Linked DNA regions of Homo sapiens: regions 1, 2 and 3 are each linked to region 4. The links come from fine-mapping of genetic effects on gene expression. A gene starts in region 4. Each other region holds a variant in brackets. All regions are shown on one strand. Distances are from middle to middle.

The links. PIP is the estimated chance that this variant, and not a neighbour inherited with it, causes the effect. A credible set is the group of variants that fine-mapping cannot tell apart.
Region 1: its variant is the best candidate, but not a certain one, in a credible set for the expression of GPR18 in whole blood (INTERVAL, PIP 0.66).
Region 2: its variant is the best candidate, but not a certain one, in a credible set for the expression of GPR18 in whole blood (INTERVAL, PIP 0.55).
Region 3: its variant is the best candidate, but not a certain one, in a credible set for the expression of GPR18 in blood mononuclear cells (TOPMed, PIP 0.60).

Annotation. Positions count from the first base shown.
Region 1 is chr13:99,334,715-99,339,865 of GRCh38, reverse strand. All of the region lies in intron 6 of UBAC2 (UBA domain containing 2), which reads right to left. Among named protein-coding and RNA genes, the nearest start is that of FKSG29, 14 kb to the left of the region's middle. The variant G/C (reference allele first, on the strand shown) is at 3,143.
Region 2 is chr13:99,345,029-99,350,179 of GRCh38, reverse strand. The region is part of intron 7 of UBAC2 (UBA domain containing 2); the gene reads right to left. Among named protein-coding and RNA genes, the nearest start is that of FKSG29, 3.8 kb to the left of the region's middle. The variant C/T (reference allele first, on the strand shown) is at 2,300.
Region 3 is chr13:99,136,164-99,141,314 of GRCh38, reverse strand. No RefSeq gene overlaps it. Among named protein-coding and RNA genes, the nearest start is that of DOCK9-DT, 52 kb to the right of the region's middle. The variant G/A (reference allele first, on the strand shown) is at 3,148.
Region 4 is chr13:99,255,296-99,260,446 of GRCh38, reverse strand. GPR18 (G protein-coupled receptor 18) reads left to right here and starts at 2,068. Exons shown (of 2, transcript NM_001098200.2): 1 at 2,068-2,293; 2 at 4,541-5,151. The coding sequence starts at 4,575. The region is part of intron 4 of UBAC2 (UBA domain containing 2); the gene reads right to left. It overlaps LOC124903198 (a long non-coding RNA gene), which reads left to right. Exons shown (of 3, transcript XR_007063846.1): 2 at 199-308; 3 at 1,861-2,008.

The DNA of each region.
Region 1 (5,151 bases), 79 kb before region 4:
ACACAATCTAAAATCTTGGTTTTTATTTACATAGTGTTTTAATCAGTTTTTCAACTACTGATTTTTCTAGACATTTAAAATCCTCACCAATATTAGTTCCATTTATAAACCAACCTTGTCTTCATCTTGAAGGTCATTTATAATGTATGGTTACAGAAGTCTCAAGGCTTCCTATGATTTTCTAGTTAAAAATGACTATGGCTATTCCTTTGTAAAAAAAAAAAAATCTTGATGTGAATTTGATTCTTAGGATTAGAAGATCAGATTAGAACATATTTGACAACTTTCTAATATGAGAAAAGTATACTTCAATGTTTAAAAATAAAATTTAAATTGATGAATTGGCAAGAATTCTTTGAGACTGTGCTACACACCAGGCACTGTTCTGGGAACTTAGAATACAGCAAAGAACAAGATAAGCAAGGCCCCACTCTCACAGGGCTTATAGCAGTCAATGTGGAGAACAGGCAGTAATCAAGTCAACACATAAAACTATTTCTGGCAAGTTCTGGGAAGGAAATAAAGTGACATGGGGCACGAACCTACTCTGGGGGCAGCGGGGGACATCAGGAGAGCCCTCAGAGAAAGTGATACTTGAGCGAAGATCTTAAGGATGATGCGGTGCCCGTGACTTGATGAACTGGGGAAATAACATTTTGGGCAGAGAAAGCAGCAGATGCTGCGCAGCCCGAGCTTGGGAGTGTCTATTAGATATCTTGGGGGGCTACTGAGTGGGCAGGTGGCTATGTAATTCTAGAACTCAAGGAAAAGGTCGAGATAAGGATTTCAGAGTCACTGGATATGATATGACATTTAGGGTAACAGGACTAGAGGAGATAAAATGGGGGGGAGGAGGAGACACAGCAGAAGAGAGAACAGGACTAAGGACTGAATCCAGGAGTGCACAAATATTCTATGGACAGACAGAGTAGGAAACGCCAGTAAGGAAATCTGAGACAGGGCTGCCAGTGAAGAGAAGGGAAATAGAGTTTAGTTATCACTGAAGCTAAGAAGTGTTTTAAAATAGGGATGGTCAGCTATATCTAATGCAGCTGATAAGTAAGACAGAACTAGCCACTGGATGTTGCAAATGGAGGTGTTTGATAAACAAGGTGTTTACAAGAACAGTTTTGGTACCAAAGACAGACTGTAGTAGGCTGAAGAGTGAATGGTGGACAACTTCTGGTTTCAAATAATTTCTGTGCCCCTTTACTCAAAAATAGTACAAGACAAAGAAAATGAAAACAGAAACAAACTCCAAGGTCCATGAAACCAGAAACTAATCCTGAACCATGCTAACAAAATAGAAAGCTTATCAAGTGATTATAAACCACTCTGCATATAAGCAGCATATAAGTCCAAATGCCTGCAGAGAGTCCTGTGGGACTCAGAAAAGCACAGGGACTAGAGCAAGCTTGTTCAACCTGAGGCCTGTGGGCCACATGTGGCCCAGGACAGCTTTCAATGTGGTCCAACACAAATTCATAAACTTTCTTAAAACATTACAAGGTTGGGCGCAGTGGCTCACACCTGTCATCCCTGCACTTTGGGAGGCCAAGGCGGGCGGATCACAAGAGGTCAGGAGTTTGAGACCAGCCTGGCCAACATGGTAAAAACCCGTCTCTACTAAAAATACAAAAATTAGCCGGGCGTGGTGGCACACACCTGTGGTCCCAGCTACTCAGGAGGCTGAAGCACAAGAATCGCTTGAACCTGGGTGGTGGAGGTTACAGTAAGTCGAGATTGTGCCGCTGCACTCCAGCCTGGGCGACACAGTGAGACTCTGTCTCAAAAAAAAAAAAAAAAAAAAAAAAAAAAGAAAAAAAGAAAAAAAGTTAGGAGATTTTTTTGCAATTTTTTTAAAGCTCATCAGCTATCTTCAGTGTTAGTGTATATTATGTGTGGCCCAAGACAATTCTTCTTCCAATGTGTCACAGAAGAGTTCAAAAGACTAGATACCCCTGGACTAGAGGGTCTAGGCCCTGTGGAAGGAGGAGAGAAGTAGAGGGTTACTTAAGTCTGGGTAAGAGGCACCCCAGTTCCTCCTCATGCTCCATGTACCCTTTCTCCCCTCCACAGAGAGAAGGGAAAAGCTGTGTAGGGCATGAACCAAGGAGGGTCCATGTGGGTTGGGAAGGCCAAGGCCTCTGCACAGGCAGATTATGTGCATCTCATGCGGCTGTCAGCATAGGGGTTCCAGAAGAAGACAACAGAGGGAATATGGGGGAAAGGATATTATATTTAAAGAGATAAACAGCTGAGAGTTTTCTAGAATAAAGAAAGAATATAAATCCTTAGGATGAAAGGGCAAGAGTCCCTAAAAGAATGCTAAAACGAAATTTACATCTAGATCCACTGTGGTGAAACAAAAGAAAGAAATCCTTAAAAGCAACCAGGGATAAAATACAGACTGTTTAGAAAGAAAAAATAAACTGTTAGCAAATAACAGCAAGAAAAACTGTAAGATAATTGGGAATAAATAAATAATATATATATAAGGCCTTGACAGAAAAAAAAGAAAAAGATAATAAGGGATATTTTTTCAAAACCAACCCTAGTGATAATAAAGATACCAGTTCCATGAATAGGAAGATGCAAAACTTTTAAGATACCAATTTTCATCAAATTAATACATAAATTAAATATCATTCAAAATAAAATCTTAACAGGGTGTTTTGTTGGAATGTAAATGCCAAGCCTCAAATTCATGCGGAATATTTAAGGTTTGCATTTTAAAAACACCATGTTGGGAGAAAGAAGCCAGACCCAAAGCCTGAAAACACGATTCCACTTCTGTGAATGAATGAACCTAAACCACACACTAAGCAGTAAAACGAGACAGGAAAGCGCAAAGATGATGACTATGTGTGCTAGGAGGGGTCACAGAAGGGAGGGAGAAAGAAGGGGAAGGGGTCACAGGAGGGAGGTGGGAAGGAGGAAGAGAGGTGGGAAGGAAGGGGGGCACCATGGGCTGCGGGGCTGGCCAGGCATGGTCTGTACCTGCATGGTGGATTATGGGTATATTTGCTTTATAGTGATTTGCAAGGCTTTGTGACAGTTAGTTTGTGTTGTATATCACAATTAAGAGTTAAAAGACAAAGAAATAAAAAACCCAGAAAAGGCAAGGCAATTTTAAAGAAAC[G/C]TAAGTCCTATCAGATTTCAAGACATACTATAAAGTTTGGCTACCTAAAACAGTGTGGTCTTTATCTAGGGTTACTTAAATAGACCAAGAGAACAAGAGCCTAGAAATAGGATCCTCAGTGTAAGGGCACCTGGTATTCAGCAGACATGGGTAAATTGGGAGGGAAGGGGCACATGGGCTATACACAAGGAAGAGACAGAACAGGGCCCCTTCCTGACACCAAACGTAAACTTGCAATGGAATAAGAACTCAAATAGAATTCATGAAATTGTAAATCTTTCTGCACAAAATACAGAAGGAATACCTTTTTGGCACTGGGGTGGCAAAATATTTTAAATTAAGAAACATAAGGTACAAACTAGAAAAGAAAACACACACTGGTCTACTTTACAATTTAAAAGCTGTAGTATGCCAAAAGCTACCATAAATGAAATGAAAACACAAGAGGCCTGAAGAAAGTATTCAGAATTCATACAGCCAACCAAGGCAGCATTCAGAACATATCAAGAAACCCTAGGAATGTGTAAGAAAGAGCCCAGTTTTAAAAGCATATGAAAAGGTAATTTCAGAAGAGAAAACTCAAATGGCTGACAAACTCATGAAAAGATGTTTATCCTCACTTGTTTTTAGGACTCTGAAATCTAAAATGAGCAATCTTAAATACAGCAACTGGCAAAAATGTAAAGCTCCTCTAACATCCAGTTTTATCTCTTTTTTTTTTTTTTCCATTTTGTGGAGAATGAGGTGTTGCCATGTTGCCAGGCAGGTCTTGAACTCCTGGGCTCAAGCGATCCTCCTGCCTCTGCCTCCCTAAGTGCTGGGATTCCAGGTGTGAGGTTTTGGTAAGGATGGAGGGAACTGAGAACTCTCACACAGTCCCGAGGGAAGGTGAAGCTATGGCGCCTCTGGGGAGCAATGTGGCAACACCAAGTAGAGCTTTGAGGCTCATTCCACTGCAGCCCTGCATGAGAGAGAGAGGAAGCAGAAACAAATCATCCCCAAGAGGGGAACAGCTGCAGAGTGGGTTATTCATACAACACAGTACTATACAGCCATCCAGATGAACTCCATGTGCGTGTACTGATGTGTTTAAAGTGGAATGAAAAATACACATAGAAGGTATCACATGTTGCGCTCATCTTCCTGCAAAATTTCAGACAACAAAATAATAGTCTATGCCGTTTGTGCACACATCTGTCTGCGGTAACTACAGAATCACAGAAAGCAGTCTTTGCTGTAGAGGGGTGATGGGGGACAGGGTAGGGGGTAGGCAGAGGCATTCTCTGTAACAAATATATATTTTTAATGAAGAGAGACATATGAAGTCAATATGGAAAAAAAAAAACAGTAATGAATTGGAGGCAAGGAAGTAGAAATGCCTTTTCTGAAGATCTGATATAAAACAGAAAATAGGGTGTATATCAGCATTACGCTGATTCAGCAGAAGATAGCAAAATGTTATAAACATAACAAAATATTAAAAATGTAGTACAAATTAGAGCTGTGAGATTTGAATGAAGTACAAAATTAAACATTTTTATTTTTCGGTCTCAAAGTATTCAACTGTGATTGTTGATTTGTTCATTGCTCCCATTAGCTATTTTAACTTCATATATCTAGAAGCTGTTCCTGTTTGTGGACGCTGTTATTAGGCACACAAACACAACTGACCCTTTCGTCATAACAAAGCATTCTGCTGTGTTTTTAGTAATACTCATAGAGAAGTCTACTTTGTCTAATCTTAAAACAGCCATTTCAGCTTTCTTATGGTTACTGTCTCCATAATATATCTTCATCCTTTTAATTTCAGGCTTTTTTTGTGTCTTTGTATTTAAAGTGTGTCTTGTAGATACCATATAGCAATTTTTTTTCTTTTAAATTAGTCTGACAATCTCTACCTTTTGATTGGAGTGTTTAGCTATTATTCATACTTAATGTATTTGCTTGAATAGCTGGATTTTGCAATTTGGTTTCTGTCTGTCTCATCTGTTTCTTACTCTTTACTCCCC
Region 2 (5,151 bases), 90 kb before region 4:
AGAGATGATCATGGACATTATCAATCATTATAAACATCATGAATCATTAGCTTTTAATATTACTCTTTGTTGCATTACTAATATAACCTAGGAATAACCGGCGGGCATAGGGTCAGGTGCTGAAGGGACATTGTGAGAAGTGACCTAGAAGGCAAGAGGTGAGCCCTCTGTCACGCCGGCATGAGGGCTCCTTGGTCAAGCGGTAATGCCAGTGTCTGCGAAGACACCCATTACTTAGCAGACCGCGAAAGGGAGTCTCCTTTCATTGGAGGAGTCAGGGAACACTCTGCTCCACCACCTTCTTGTGGGAGGCTGGATATTATCCCAGTCTGCCCGCAGTCATCCGAAGTCCTAAACCCCTCCCTGTGATGCTGTGCTTCAACGGTCACGCTCCTTGTCCACTTTCATGTTCCTCCCGTACTCCTGGTTCCTCTTTGAAGTTCGTAGTAGATAGCAGTAGAAGAAATAGTAAAAGTCTTAAAGTCTTTGATCTTTCTTATAAGTGCATAGAAGAAAACGCTGACGTATGGTGCCTTCTCTCTCTCAGCTTCGGCTACCTAAGAGGGAAGGGCCCCCCTGTCCTGTGATTACGTGACTTGCTTCACCTTGTCAATCACTTAGAAGATTCACCCTCCTTACCCTGACCCCCGGTCTTGTATGCAATAAATATCAGCGCACCCAGCCGTTCAGGGCCACTACTGGTCTCCGCATCTTGATGGCAGTGGTCCCTCGGGCCCAGCTGTTTTCTCTTTATCTCTTTGTCTTGTGTCTTTATTTATTACAATCTCATCTCCGCACATGGGGAGAACACCTGCTAAGCCCTGTAGGGCTGGACCCTATGCTCACTGTGGAGATTCCAAGGGCTTTAGGTGCTGTGTGTCAGGGGCCAGTGGTAGAGAACAGATACATCTTTCTCATCACAGCACACAGAGCTTCTTTGCTACAGCGAGCAAAGGGAGGGAGACATGCACCGTGAAGCTGTGGAGACTCAGGTTGCACAGGCACCATTCGGATGATCATTACTACAGGAGACTCCAGTAATTGATCTGGAGGTCTGAAGACAAGGAGGCTCTGCAAAGCCTGCCCTCGTCCTTCACTGTGATGAGCTAAGCATGCTCTAGCTCATCACCAACAATATCCTGAGCACACAGAATTTTCACTGTCTCCCACCTGGTCTTCTTCCTCTAGTGTCACCTTTTCTTTTCTTTTTCTTTTTGAGCCGTGATTGCACCTTGACCTCCAGGGATCAAGTGATCGTTCCATCTCAGCCTCCTGAGTAGCTGGGACTACAGGCACAGGCCACCACGCCCAGCTGATTTAAAAAATTTTTTTGTAGAGAAGAGGTCTCACTATGTTGCCCAGGCTGGTCTCAAACTCCTAGGCTCATGCTATCCTCCTGCCTTGGCCTCCCAAAGCGCTGGGATTACAGGCATGAGCCACTGTGGCCAGCCTACCGTCATCCCTTCAGACAACGTTCATATTATGACTAAAGTGAGCTTTCTTAAAAATAAATCTAACTTACTCTCCTGTTTAAAAGGCCTCACTGATCCACCACTTCTGGCAGGATGAACACAACAGCAATTCTTAGTTTGGTAGAAGACCCGTCCTGGCCTCTGCTCTCTTCCCAACCATGTCTTTCATTGCCTCTTTCTTATAGGAACCTCAATCTCAGGCGAATGCAATTCCTTGCTGTCCCCACAGCTGTTTTGAGCCCCTGTGCGTTTTTTCATAAGGCCCCCCGTGACTGAAACACCTGCCCCAATGCTGGCCTCAAGATTACCCTCGCTGTATCCCTTAGGGAGAACTGGCCACACCCACTGTTTAGGCTCAGGGTTCTTTTTTCTTCTCTTTGCACAGACTCCTGTAGAAACCTAGTGCCTAGTACAGCCTCATGTCTTCCCCTCGCTGGCTGCAAACTTCTTGAAGGCGCAGGCGGCGTCTTATTTAATCCCTCAGGGCAGTACACTGCATTAGAGCCAAAAGACAAAGAAGTACAACAGCTCCTGTCCTCCAAGAGCTCATATTCTACTGGGGATGAACAAAACACAAACCCATGAAAAGTTATGTAATGGCCCTGGCAGTGTAAAGATGATCACAGCTGCAAGTAGCAAAATGACTCTGAGATGCCACCTGCTTTGGAGAAGGCAGCTCTGCTGGGAGACAAGAGTGAGTCAGCGGGCAAGGAACTACTGAGAGCAGCTTATGTGTGTCCAGCATAGTGTCCCGAGTTTACAAAAGAATGGGACAGCTGTGGATGTGGAGGGAGATAAGAAGTGGGCACCACAGGCTGCAGCTAATA[C/T]TCTGCAGCCCACTCCATCTTCACTGCCACAGGCCCATGAGACAAGCCTCCAAAGGCCTCTGGATAGTCAGTGCTGGCGGGAAATGTCCAGAAAGATCTGTAGGAGGTCAAAGCACACTAGATGACGTTATCACATGCCTGTGCTTAATGATGAGCATGGGACCACTGTACCCTGCCCCTGTCAGCACCTAGGTCTCATGTCTCAGTTGAAGTGAGATCTATAGAGCCATCACCCTGGTCACTGTTCATCAGAGCTGTGGAATGGGAATATGCCACACAGTGGACTAAAAATGCTTCAGGAGCATAAGATCATATTGACTTTCTCACAGAGTGAAAGTAACTTGAACGGGGACCAGCGTGACCACAGTGATGTCCCAGAATGAGGGCAGCCAGTCAGAACAGAGTGATATTGACCTTCCCCCACTTCCAGCTCATGCAGCGCTTCTCATCCCCATCTCTCCACCGAAGCCCCTTTCAAAAGTGAACTCATTCTGCTGAATCCAGTGGTGGTCTTCCAGTATCATCTTCACTTGCCTTTTTTTTCCTGGGGGGGGGGGGGGGCGCCCGGGGATAGTAACGTCTGAATCTGTTCCTGAAACACCTACTCTTCCTGAAACATTCTACTCCGCAGGCTCCCTGGCCACTGAACTGGTTTTCTCCTTGGTCCCTGGGGGTTCTTTTTTTTCCCTCTTTGCACTCTCTAGACATGGGTCTTGCTTTCTACTGTTCTCTCAAGAGTATCCGTAGATCTTTTTTTTTCTTTAAATAGAGATGGGGGTCTCACCATGTGGCCCAAGCTGGTCTCAAACTCCTGGGCTCAAGCAATCTGCCCGCCTGGGCTTCCCAAAGTGCTGGGATTACAGGCGTGAACCACTGCACTCAACCTCTGTAGATGTTTCCAGCCCTGATTATTCATCTGTGTTCAGCTTGCTTAAAGTCTTTCTGTATCTATTTATTATGCTCATATTTGCTCATTAATTCCCACAGTTCCTAACATCTGCCAGGCATTATTCACACACTGGAGATATACAGAAAACAAGTCTGCTCCATCCGGAGACACACTGGTGGAGAAAGGGCAGTAAATCACCAGTGAACATCGGGTTTGCGGTGCCACGAGAGACAGGCAGTGTCTACAGGGGCAGAGAGAGCCCTGGGAGCCCCCCAGGAAGCTGGGGAAGGCCTCCCTGAGGAGGCGATATTTGTCAGGAATGCCGAGTAAATAGCAGCTAGACAAGTGAAAATGATGTGTATGTGGGAGGGGTGGGGTGAAGGGGTTGGTACAGGGAAGTTCATTCTGGGCAGAGAGGAAAGGGAAGATGTAAAGGTGAGACTGCGTGAAACAATATGAGCAGCAGTTAACTGTGAGTAACCCGGTGAGGCATGGCTGGCCTAAGGGCTTGCACACGGCAGCAGAAAGGAGATGCGGCCACATAGCAGGCAGGAGCCTTGTGTTGGAACCACCCTGAAAGCTATGGAGAGGCCCTGAAGGATGATAGCTGGAGTGAAACAAGCAGATTTCTGTTTTCACAGAGATCACTGGTGGAGGCTGTGGGGCAGGCTCAGGAGGGAGGCAGTCGGTGATGGAGATGGGAGGGAAGAAATCCAGGCAAATGGCGCCGGTGGCCTGAACTACAGCACTGGAGATGAATGACGGACTTACATCAAGGAGGGAGACTCTTTGGGGCTGAACTGGTGGGGAAGGCAGGAAGGACATGGATGTATAAGTGGGAAATGTCTGGGGTGAAACCCTAGGTTTGGACTTTCGGGTAAACAATGGGTGCTTTTCATCAGGTAGGGAGTGAGAAAGGGAAACAAATTTAGCAAAGAAACAGTACATGTCGGCTGTGTGCGGTGGCTCACGCCTGTAATCCCAGCACTTTGGGAGGCCAAGGCAAGTGGATCATGAGGTCAGGGGTTCAAGACCAGCCTGGCCAACATGGTGAAACCCCGTCTTTACTAAAAATACAAAAATTAGCCGGATGTGGTGGTGAGCGCCTGTAATCCCAGCTACTCGGGAGGCTGAGGCAGGAGAATTGCTTGAAGCCAGGAGACAGAGGTTGCAGTGAGCCAAGATCACGCCACTGCACTCCAGCCTGGGCAACAGAGCAAGACTCTGTCTCAAAAAAAAAAAAAAAAAAAGAAAGAAAAAAAGAAACAGTACCTGTCAAGAGCTGATGGGACAGTGAAGTGGAGATGTACTATAGGCAGTAGGATATTTCGGTCTGGAGCCCCAGGAGAGAGGGAGGTCCAGTCTCTAGATCTTGAGGGACTCATGGGAGCCATGAGCTCAATAAAGTGGTGAGGACAGGGGCTGGGTGGGTCCCCTTGGGTGTCTAACGTGAAAAGCTCAGTAGGCAGAGAACTGAGTCTTGGGAAACAACCTATTTAGGGAGTGAACAGAGGAAGGAGAGCTCGATCCAGAGTACAGCATCAGCCCAGCCAAGGCACTCCTCTGAGAGCCGGGCTTTAGAAACCTCCTTCTATTTGTCTCCTCCTCTGTGGTTTCTCCTTTCCCCCGTCCATCTTACACTGTGCAATAAAATGACATTTTTCTGAGATAACTGTCCTATCTTTGTTACTGAATAAACAATTTTTCACAGCCAATGTCCAAGCCGAAATCTATTGTCAGGCTTAAACTACCTCCCTCCATTATCAGTTACTATATCATTTCCCATTTCTCACTACATATCTGCCCACATGTCAATCACAGGGCTCCTGGAGGTCTCTCCTTTTTAAGGTCTCATTAGCACCTCCATGCCTCACTCTTGCTGGTCCTCTCCTCTGGAATGATGTGCCTTACCCTCTCCACCCATCCAAATTCCACCCGTCCTTCTACTTCCTGAAATCTTTTT
Region 3 (5,151 bases), 120 kb after region 4:
CAGCAAGTTTTTATTAGGGATTTTAAAAGGGGAGGGGTGTACGAACAGGAAGTAGGTCACAAGGATCACATGTTTCAAAAGCCCATAAAGATCACAAGGCGAAGGCAAAATTAGAATTACTGATGAGGGTCTGTGTCCCACTGTGCATGCATTGTCTTGATAAACATCTTAACAGGAAACAGGGTTCAAGAGCGGACAACTGGTCTGACTAGAATTCACCGGGCTGGAATTTCCCAATCTAGTAAGCCTCAGGGCACTGCAGGAGACCAGTATTTCAGTCCTTAGCTCAATCGCATAAGACAGACGCTCCCAGAGCAGCCGTTCATAGACCTACCCCCAGGAATGCAGTCCTTCCCCAGGGTCTCAATGATTAATATTCCCTGCTAGGAAAAGAATTCAGCGATATCTCTCCTACTTGTACATCGTCTATAAGCTTTCTGCAAGAAGAAAAATATGGCTCTATTCTGCCCGACCCTGCAGGCAGTCAGACCTTATGGTTATCTTTCCTTGTTCCCTGAAAATCGCTGTTATCCTGTTCTTTTTCAGGGTGCACTGATTTCATATTGTTCAAACACACATGTTTCACAAACAATTTGTACAGTTAATGCAATCATCACAGGGTCCTGAGGTGACATACATCCTCAGCTTATGAAGATGACGGGGTTAAGAGATTAAAGTAAGACAGGCATAAGAAATTATAAGAGTATTAATTTGGGGAACTAACAAATGTCCATGAAATCTTCACAATTTATGTTCAGAGATTGCAGTAAAGACAGGTGTAAGAAATTATAAAAGTATTAATTTTGGGAACTAATAAATGTCCATGAAATCTTCACAATTTATGTTCTTCTGCCGTGGCTTCAGCCGGTCCCTCCGTTCGGGGTCCCTGACTTCCTGCAACACAGGTGTGGTGGCACCTGCCTGTAATCCCAGCTACTTGGGAGGCTAAGGCAGGAGAATCTCTTGAACCTGGGGGACAGAGGTTGCAGTGAGCCAAGATCATGCCATTACACTCCAGCCTGGGCAACAAGAGTGAAACTCCGTCTCCAAGAAAAAAAGGGGGATCAGGGAACTTTTTGGGTGATGGTAATGTGCTGCGTGTCACCTCTGCACCCAGAATTTGGGTTACACAGATGACTGAAGTTGTCTAAATGGCCCACTTAAGATGTGAACATTTCACCATTTATATATAACCTTTAAATAAACTTCAGATATTCTCCCACTGAATATGACTATTACTCAGGCCATAGTAAATGCTGGTCTTCCAATAATTTTTCTTTAGTAGAAAAGGAGGGCTGGAAAGAGAGAGAAATTGTTTCAAAGGAAAACTATAACACCTATTACTAGATTCCAGCCCTGGGTTTTGTTTTTGCGTACAGATTGAATCATGAGTTATTTCTGGCTGCAAGAATCCAGGTTATAATTTTCTTCATGTTTTTAGTTGGCACCCTAATGGAATAGATTCCTTCTTCTGTTCTGACACACACGTTCTCTTTTAATTGTCAAATTGTTAACATTACTTATCTCTCATAGTTTTACTTCATGCAAGAACACCAGAATCATGGTCTTCTGAAGACTAGAGATGATTTGACAAAGCCTGTGCGTCTCCTGTACTTGGAATCCCACTTGGCCTGATCTGTTTTTCACTGCAAATACCCAGCTACTAAAACCGTACAGGCACCCTCCCTCTGGGCCCGGGGACTATCATGGAAGAGGTGGGTGCATGAGATTGTAAGGGCTGGTTTTGAGGGACAGAATTAGTTCAGACCCTCCAAATCAAGGATGGGTACACAGATGTCTAAACAGCTGGTGAAATAAGGGACTTTACCTCCTGGATTTTTATGGTGTGGCACCTTTTCACTCGTCCCAACCATGAAGAATTTTCTGCTTCACATAGAATTAAAATAAAATTATTACTGAGAGGATATAAGGATACCTCATGACAAAACCTCCCGGGAATAATACTCCTACTTATGAGATTTATGAAGATAGATATGTATTTAAAAAATTTTTTTTCAGCAGGGCTCAGTGGCTCACGCCTATAATCCCAGCACTTTGGGAGGCCGAGGTGGGTGGATCACCTGAGGCCAGGGACCAGCCTGCCAATATGGTGAAACCCCATCTCTACTAAAATTACAAAAAATTAGCCGGGCCTGGTGGCATGCGCCTGTAGTCCCAGCTACTCCGGAGGCTGAGTATCGCTTGAACCCAGGAGGCGGAGGTTGCAGGGAGCCAAGATCGCACCACTTCACTCCAGCCTGGGCGACAGAGCGAGACTCCATCTCAAAAAATAAAAAATAAAAAATTTCAGCCACCTTAGGACAAATTACTAAAAGACCCCAAAAAGCATTGTGACACAACAAAGTCTCTAAATTCCTTAGCCTAAAAGGTTTTAACAATGCTTATGTGTTGAATAGCTAACTGCTACGAGTCCATAACAAAAACCAAGATTACAGTAGCTCAATGCATGGAAGTTAAAGACAGATAAAGTCAATTTTGTAACCTCACTTTTGGCTTTTTGTTTGTTGGCTTTTGTATTACTTTAAAATTGTTAAGAGGTAATGAATGCCTGTCCACGTCCTTTCCTATATGGCCTAGAACGTATAATTGGCTATAAGTCTCCTGGCTCTAAGTCCATTGGCCATGGATGAGGGCATCACACAGAAGAACAGGATGGACTTGGGTCAGGCAGCCATGCCACCCCAGCAACTCTATGGGACAAAATAAAAGCTTGGTGGCCATTAATGTTGCCTCTGGCAAATCTTGGCCAGAAGGGGGAGAATGCAAACCAAAAATAAAATTCTAAGCCCCCACCCATCTGAATGGACACCTCATTTCGGCAAAGATATTCCAAAGTTAACCTGAAAAATGAGTTCAGGCCACGATGGGAAGAGGGAATCGGACATGCCTCATTATTCCCTCCTCCCTTTTGGAATTACTGACAGAACAGACTCTTTAAGTCTGATAAGAAATATTTATAATCTACCGTCTCTGAAGCCTGATACCTGGAGGCTTCACCTGCATGTTAAAACTTTGGTCTCCAGGCCGGGCGCGGTGGCTCACGCCTGTAATCCCAGCACTTTGGGAGGCCGAGGCGGGTGGATCACGAGGTCAGGAGATGGAGACCATCCAGGCTAACACGGTGAA[G/A]CCCCGTCTCTACTAAAAGTACAAAAAATTAGCCCGGCGTGGTGGCGGGCGCCTGTAGTCCCAGCTACTCGGGAGGCTGAGGCAGGAGAATGGCGTGAACCCAGGAGGCGGAGCTTGCAGCGAACCAAGATCGCGCCACTGCACTCCAGCCTGGGCGACAGAATGAGCCTCCGTCTCAAAAAAAAAAAGAGAAAGAAAATGCATCTCTTACTGAGATGAGTGGGAATTTCTCAACCAGTTCATGTATCCAGAGAATATTAATTCTTGGTAGACTTAACACTAGGTTTAGCACCAATTACATGCCGATTATTTTTTAAATGTAAGCACCGAGAAAACATACAGACATTAATTAAGTAGATGGGGAAGGAAGCATTTTGCCATAGCCTTGACCTTCAATTCTTTGAACCCCTTCTGAGTTATGTCCCCCACCACACAAATATTTATCATCTAAAATAATTTGTAATGATTTATCAGCTGAAACTTTGGTCTTCCTTTAATTTGGTTGTATGCAAAGAAAAAGCAACTACCTGACGTAATGATTTTTTTCAACCACATCAATAGAATCATCCCTCTTTTAACACCAATTAGCATTTCAAAAATCCCTTTATTTAATGCCCCGGAAGTTATTTCACCCCTGCAATGCACCATAGGACGGTTCAGGATGGTGAGAGGCTCCCGTTCTTCAGTAAGTGGAGAAGGGACTGAGAGCGAAGAGCTGGGAAAGGAGACCCTGACCTCAGAAAGGAAGCTGAGATCCTGGGAAGTGATTCCCTCTACACTTAGCCCATGTGTTTGAGCCACAGCTTACCCATGTGTCCCTCAAAGACAGATAACCCAATTTGAAGAATGCTGCTTTCAAGGGTCCTTTCTGGCCAGGTGTGGTGGCTCTTACCTGTAATCTTAGCACTTTGGGAGGTCGAGGTGGGAGGATCACTTGAGCCCACAGGAGTTCAAGACCAGCCTGGGCAACATAGTGAGACCTCGTCTCTATAAAAAACAAAAAAGAATCCTTTCAGTATGTGTAGGGCAAGACTATAAGGCCAAAGACTGAGTCAGATTCCTTCACTCCTGTGTGTATACAGAAACCCTGCATTTTAACATGACACCTTCCTGGATACTGCATCCCCCAAAAAAGGCATGGTGTTTATCTTTAGAAACAATGCTATAACTGTAGGTTCTCTTGCTGGTCAAGGACTTGTTGGACAATATATGCCAAAAGCAAACGTATGAAGCCATGATCCTTCAAAATCCCCTGTACTCACTCTGTAATTGGACTCCAGGGTTTAGGAAATTAGGGGACATATATGGGGCTGGCCCCTGGACCATTCCCAGCCCAGCCATAGCAGACCACTATGATCCAGCTGGAGAGGGGCAGTGCCAAGCCTCATGCCTGCAGGGTGAGACTGTGCAGGTCAGAGGGCCAATGTGCAGAGCCCCTCGGTCGTCACATCCCCAGGGGCAGGTCAAGTCTGGGAAAGACCTGAAGTCAGGCAGGCTATGGGGACAGGAAGGCTGCAGAAGGGGTGGCCACTGTGTCCTGGAGTGCTCTGAGCAGCGTGCCCTGGCCTGCAGGGGACCTTCAGGGCAGCTGTCTAGCCCAATGACTATGAGGAGTTTGGGTACCTGTGAGCTGCCTGCAGAGCCCGGCAGGGTTCAACGGGGCTTTTGATCTGTAGCACTAGGGAGTGTCTGGCATATAGGAAGGGCTCAACCACTAATGTCGTCTGGCTGAATACACGAGTGAATGGTTGAATGAGGGAATGCAAGGCTCGCCTTGCTGATGCTGGAGCAGTTTTCACTGTGACGGACTCCCAGAGACTCTGGATGTCCCTCCTCACCTGTGATGCTGATGCGATCATGCCTTTGGATCTACCCTTCCGACTCAACTGGCGCCTTTCTACGGTGTCTGCTTCAGGCTCACTTTCAGGCTTTGCACTGTATTCCAGGCGGCTTTGTGCTTTCATTATGTGCCTGGCTCCTGCAGCTTTGCTGACACAGGTATCT
Region 4 (5,151 bases):
CAAGGCCCAGACATTTATCCATTCCTCCCCCAACCTCTCCATTTCTTCACCTACTTGTTCAGTCAGAAATTCAACCAATATTAAATGCCTCTTCTCTACACACATATGCAACACATGCCAACTCTCAAGGAATGCAATTTAGTGGAGGAGAAAAAGCAAGTAAATATGCAGTAACAATGCAAACATGTGCCACTACAGGGATAGGTACCAAGTGCTAAGGAAACCTGCAGGGATGAACAACCAGCCCAGCTTCGGAGGGCAGAGAAACCAGCCCAGCTTCGGATGGCAGAGAAAGCTTCCTGAAAAAGGTAGCTACAAGAACAAAGAGCAGCAGGCCATGCCATCAGGTGGGAGACAGTGGTGAGGAATGCCACAGTGGGTGGAACAGCATGTGAGAGGCAGGAAGAGCAAATGTAGCCAGTCCAGAGGGCTGGAATGGAGAGCAAGATGAGGAAAAAGTGAGAGCTCACCCCAACCTGAAGCCAGGCCTATGGAGAGCCCTCAGGTGCTCCTGGATGCCTCCTCTAAGAGTCTGGCAATTCAGAAACAAGAATGCCCCTGTGCACCGTGAAGAATTCAAGTCTTGATGAAAGGACTCTTCTAGACACATGCCATCAATGTATCTGTTGATTTTAGCAGCAATGGGGAAGCTAATCAATACTTAATTTTAGAAAAGTCCTAAGCTATGTGAATAAGGCAAAGGACAGATTAGGTCTGCATGCAGGCAGATTTCTGTCCAGCTGAAACATCAAACTCCTGTGTGATGAATGAAATATAACATCACATATAAAAAACTGATGAATGTGATTCAGCCATAAGAAGTCCTATCTAGTGGACAGATCAATATAATTACCTCATAAGAAGTTATTACAGCGGGAGAAACTGGACCTGGCTTTACCTTGAGTTCTTAAGCAAGTAACTGGCCTTCAATTTCTTCATCCACACAAGAAATAGTTGCTATGGTTGTCTCCAACACTTCTAAAACCCATCATTCTGGCAGGTTGTAACAATCAAAAGTATTTTATCACCAAAGGCAAGGATTTAAGTAACTTTTCTAAGCCACAGATTTACTATGGTTTTGTCTGAGAAAAAAAAAAAAAAGGATGGACCCCAAACTGTCTAAAATTCAAAAAAACAAATACATTTAAGTTCATGAACCCTTTAAAAAGTTGACAAACCATGCATAACCAAACATAAAGATAATTAAAATTTTAGGATAAGCAAATGAGAGATAATTTTTTTTAAGAAATGAGAAAGTAAAACAAAATTAACCTAACAAGGCAGGCAGCGATTCGTTGCTCACTTCCCTTTCTGCTGGTTTCATTTCCCTTCTTAGGTGAAAACACTCTTAATATGTAAATCAGTCCACTAAAGACTTCAGAGTCCTTTCTGCTAAGATTTGCAGAAATTTTTATGCAAAAGAAATTATTTCTAGACTTCCACGCACTAGAAAAGCAGACTTACAAAATACAGCAAACTAAAGTGGATAAATGTATGTGGCAAAGCAGAAGCAATTAATCAAGGATCCTACTTTTAAGCATTTAGAAATGTTTAAATAGTAAAAAGTGGAAATGTGGATATTCTATGATTTTTAATAACTTGGTAGTAAAAAGTGAGACTCCATTTAGGAGTACCTACTAAGTGCCAGGTACTATTAAGCACTTGGGATCTTTCTGGTTTAGGGCCCCTACAATCCTACTGGATATAGTATTATCTCTATTTCAACTGTACAGAAATGAAGTAGGAACAAAGGGTTAGTCAGAGTGGGTAGGTAACTAGACAAAGTCACATAGCTTATAAAGCAAAGAAGCTAGACTTTAAACCCCCTTTTACTCAATATCAAATCTTCTCTTTCCATAGATGATGCAGACTTCAAGCATCAAAGTACACAAACTGAAGAAACTTTATCCTTTGTATATAATTATCTTAAATATATGCCATCATTTCAAGGGGAGCTTATGCTAAGTGTGACTTCATAAACAAATCATTTGTGAAAGAGAAAAACCACATCCAGGGTAAAGTCATAAGGTGAAAAAGCCTATTTCAGAGAGCACTTCCTGAAAGAGACAAAGCAGCAATTAAAGTCAGCCCAGCACCAACTCCGACGCCAAGCGTTACACTGGAAACTACTTTTTAAAGCAACAAAAGAGTCTAAAACAAAATACAACATTTCTTAAATACACTGTTTCCAGAAAGAGCTATTTTAACAGAAGCAACTCAAAGATATCCCTTCGACAGAAGTGGAAGTGCTGAAAAATGCTCATCTCTCACACAGACTTTTGATGGACAGGAGGTAAGCAGCATTTAATTAACTTCATGATTATTGTCAAAAGTAATGCTTTATGTACTGCATTTCAAAAATCATTTCATTTTAATAATACAGGCTGGGCGCAATGGCCCACGCCTGTAACTCCAACACTTTGGGAGGCCAAGGCAGGAGGATCAGTTGTGCCCAGGAGCACCATAGTGAGACCCCGTCTCTATTAAAAAAATATATTTAATTAAAAAAATAAACATAACAAACTATGTTGGTGAAAGACCTTGAAATAGGCTATATAATCATCTTTCCACATTAATATGATTTTACATTTATTTTCAATATTGCTTTACATTAATACTAAATGTAATTTTTTTCAACTTAAGGAAAGAAAATGTTTATGGTAAATCATATGTATATTTAGGAATGTTCATCACATGTTTTCAATTACATTGTTTCATGAAATAACTTAATGGTTTTTAAGAAAAGAAAAGCTACAGATAATCATGGTATCTATAGCTTTTAAAAAGCTGACTTTAAAGTCAATCACTTTTCAATATTTATCCAAAAATTTCTGTGTTTGCAGAGCACAATCAATACTATAATGCCTTTAAAACACATGCATCACTCATTTTTTTTCAAACGTCAGCAAATGAATATAAGTATTGGTGACAAGCTACATAAAAACAGCTTGAGCATAACGTGGGAAAAAAGACTCAAGATGGTTTGTAAGTACAGGACTTATGTCACAAAATTGAAGGATGAGGATAGGTGAAGGGAGTCCTGATGCAATACTAAAAAAAGAAAAACAAATACAAAATTTCATTTATATTATAATTGCTACTATTTAATAAGAATGCATTCCAGTTAAAAATAAGATTTAAGCCTCCAAGATTACTCTCCTTTGAATGACACTAGAGATATAATTTTTCTCTGTAGCACTTTCCTCATTTGATAGAAATTAATATTCTAGTCACACCAATATTTGGAAAATTTAATATGTTTTTAAATATATAGAATTATGCTCCTAAATCATATTTAACCTAAATATTTGAGAAGGAAAGAAGGAGAAGAAGGGAAGAAAGGGAAGGGAAGGGAAGGGAAAGGAAGGAAGGCAGACAGGCACGTTTCTTGTGTTTAACCACAGCAATTGCTCAAGTTAATTCTTAATTATCAATAGCCCGTGATGCCACTGACCACAGACAGCAAATCTCCCCCATAGTTTTCCTTAAAGAGAAATTCTGGGCTGATTTCAAGACAGCCCACTCTGCAAAGTGACATTTTTGAAGGAAACTTTTCATCCACCTCCATATTACAAGGGGATGCCACAGATTCCATCTCATTGCAGCAAAGTCTATTTTTGAAGTCTGTTGTTGGTGTTGCATCATGGGGGAATGAAGTTTCACACTGAGGAGTCAATGATATTTGCAACCCCAAATAACCTCCTTTCCATTTAAAATGGACGGTTTTTTTTTTTTTGGTGATGGAAATTTATAAGTTTCTACATACACATCAAGTTACTGAATGACTTCTTATTAATATCTACTTGTCTTAGATACTCCTTTTTTGGATTTACTTTGAAAATTGTTAAAATTTAAATAATATTGAAGCTTCTGAATCTAGATGGAATGAGGATATGAAAGTTACTAACGGCACTAGCTTTTTTCAAGGTGCTGCTTTCTGTGAACCACTGAAGTAGAGCAGCTGAAATCACAAAACCTGGAAGACTTGGCTTTACGTACTCCCAATTGTGCACTAGAAAACAGCTCATCTATTGCTCTAACAGTCTAGTTCTTGATCTGCTGACCATGACACAAAACATTGCTGTTTCTCAACCTATGATAATTTAAAGAGAACATAAGGTAATAAATATTATGAAGTGTTTCCACTTTAAAAAAAACAAAAAGTTTAATAGCCAGCTACACAAGTCTTCATTTTCAAACTAGAGAATTACAAACTAGAGTTTTTTAGCAAAGTAGAGTTGCTGTGAATCATCTCATCAAAAGTTCCTTCATTTATTCATCAATTCAGTAAATATTTATTTATTGAGTACCTATTACATGCTCAATAGACAGTGGGGCTATAGCTGTAACAAAGGAAAAGTTCCCATTCTCTCTCAAATGAGAATTACTGTGAATGTTCAGTAGTTAACCAGTTGAATCGTTCCTTGATTAAATGCTCTCGAACTTAAAATTCACTGGCAGTCAAGCTGAGTGGGAGAATGTTAAGCATTTATTTTTTAACCAACGATTTTATTCTTATTTTTCTTAACTATTTTTACAGTTTCTAAGTATCATGCCTACCAACAAGCTGTAAAATGATCACCCTGAACAATCAAGATCAACCTGTCCCTTTTAACAGCTCACATCCAGATGAATACAAAATTGCAGCCCTTGTCTTCTATAGCTGTATCTTCATAATTGGATTATTTGTTAACATCACTGCATTATGGGTTTTCAGTTGTACCACCAAGAAGAGAACCACGGTAACCATCTATATGATGAATGTGGCATTAGTGGACTTGATATTTATAATGACTTTACCCTTTCGAATGTTTTATTATGCAAAAGATGAATGGCCATTTGGAGAGTACTTCTGCCAGATTCTTGGAGCTCTCACAGTGTTTTACCCAAGCATTGCTTTATGGCTTCTTGCCTTTATTAGTGCTGACAGATACATGGCCATTGTACAGCCGAAGTACGCCAAAGAACTTAAAAACACGTGCAAAGCCGTGCTGGCGTGTGTGGGAGTCTGGATAATGACCCTGACCACGACCACCCCTCTGCTACTGCTCTATAAAGACCCAGATAAAGACTCCACTCCCGCCACCTGCCTCAAGATTTCTGACATCATCTATCTAAAAGCTGTGAACGTGCTGAACCTCACTCGACTGA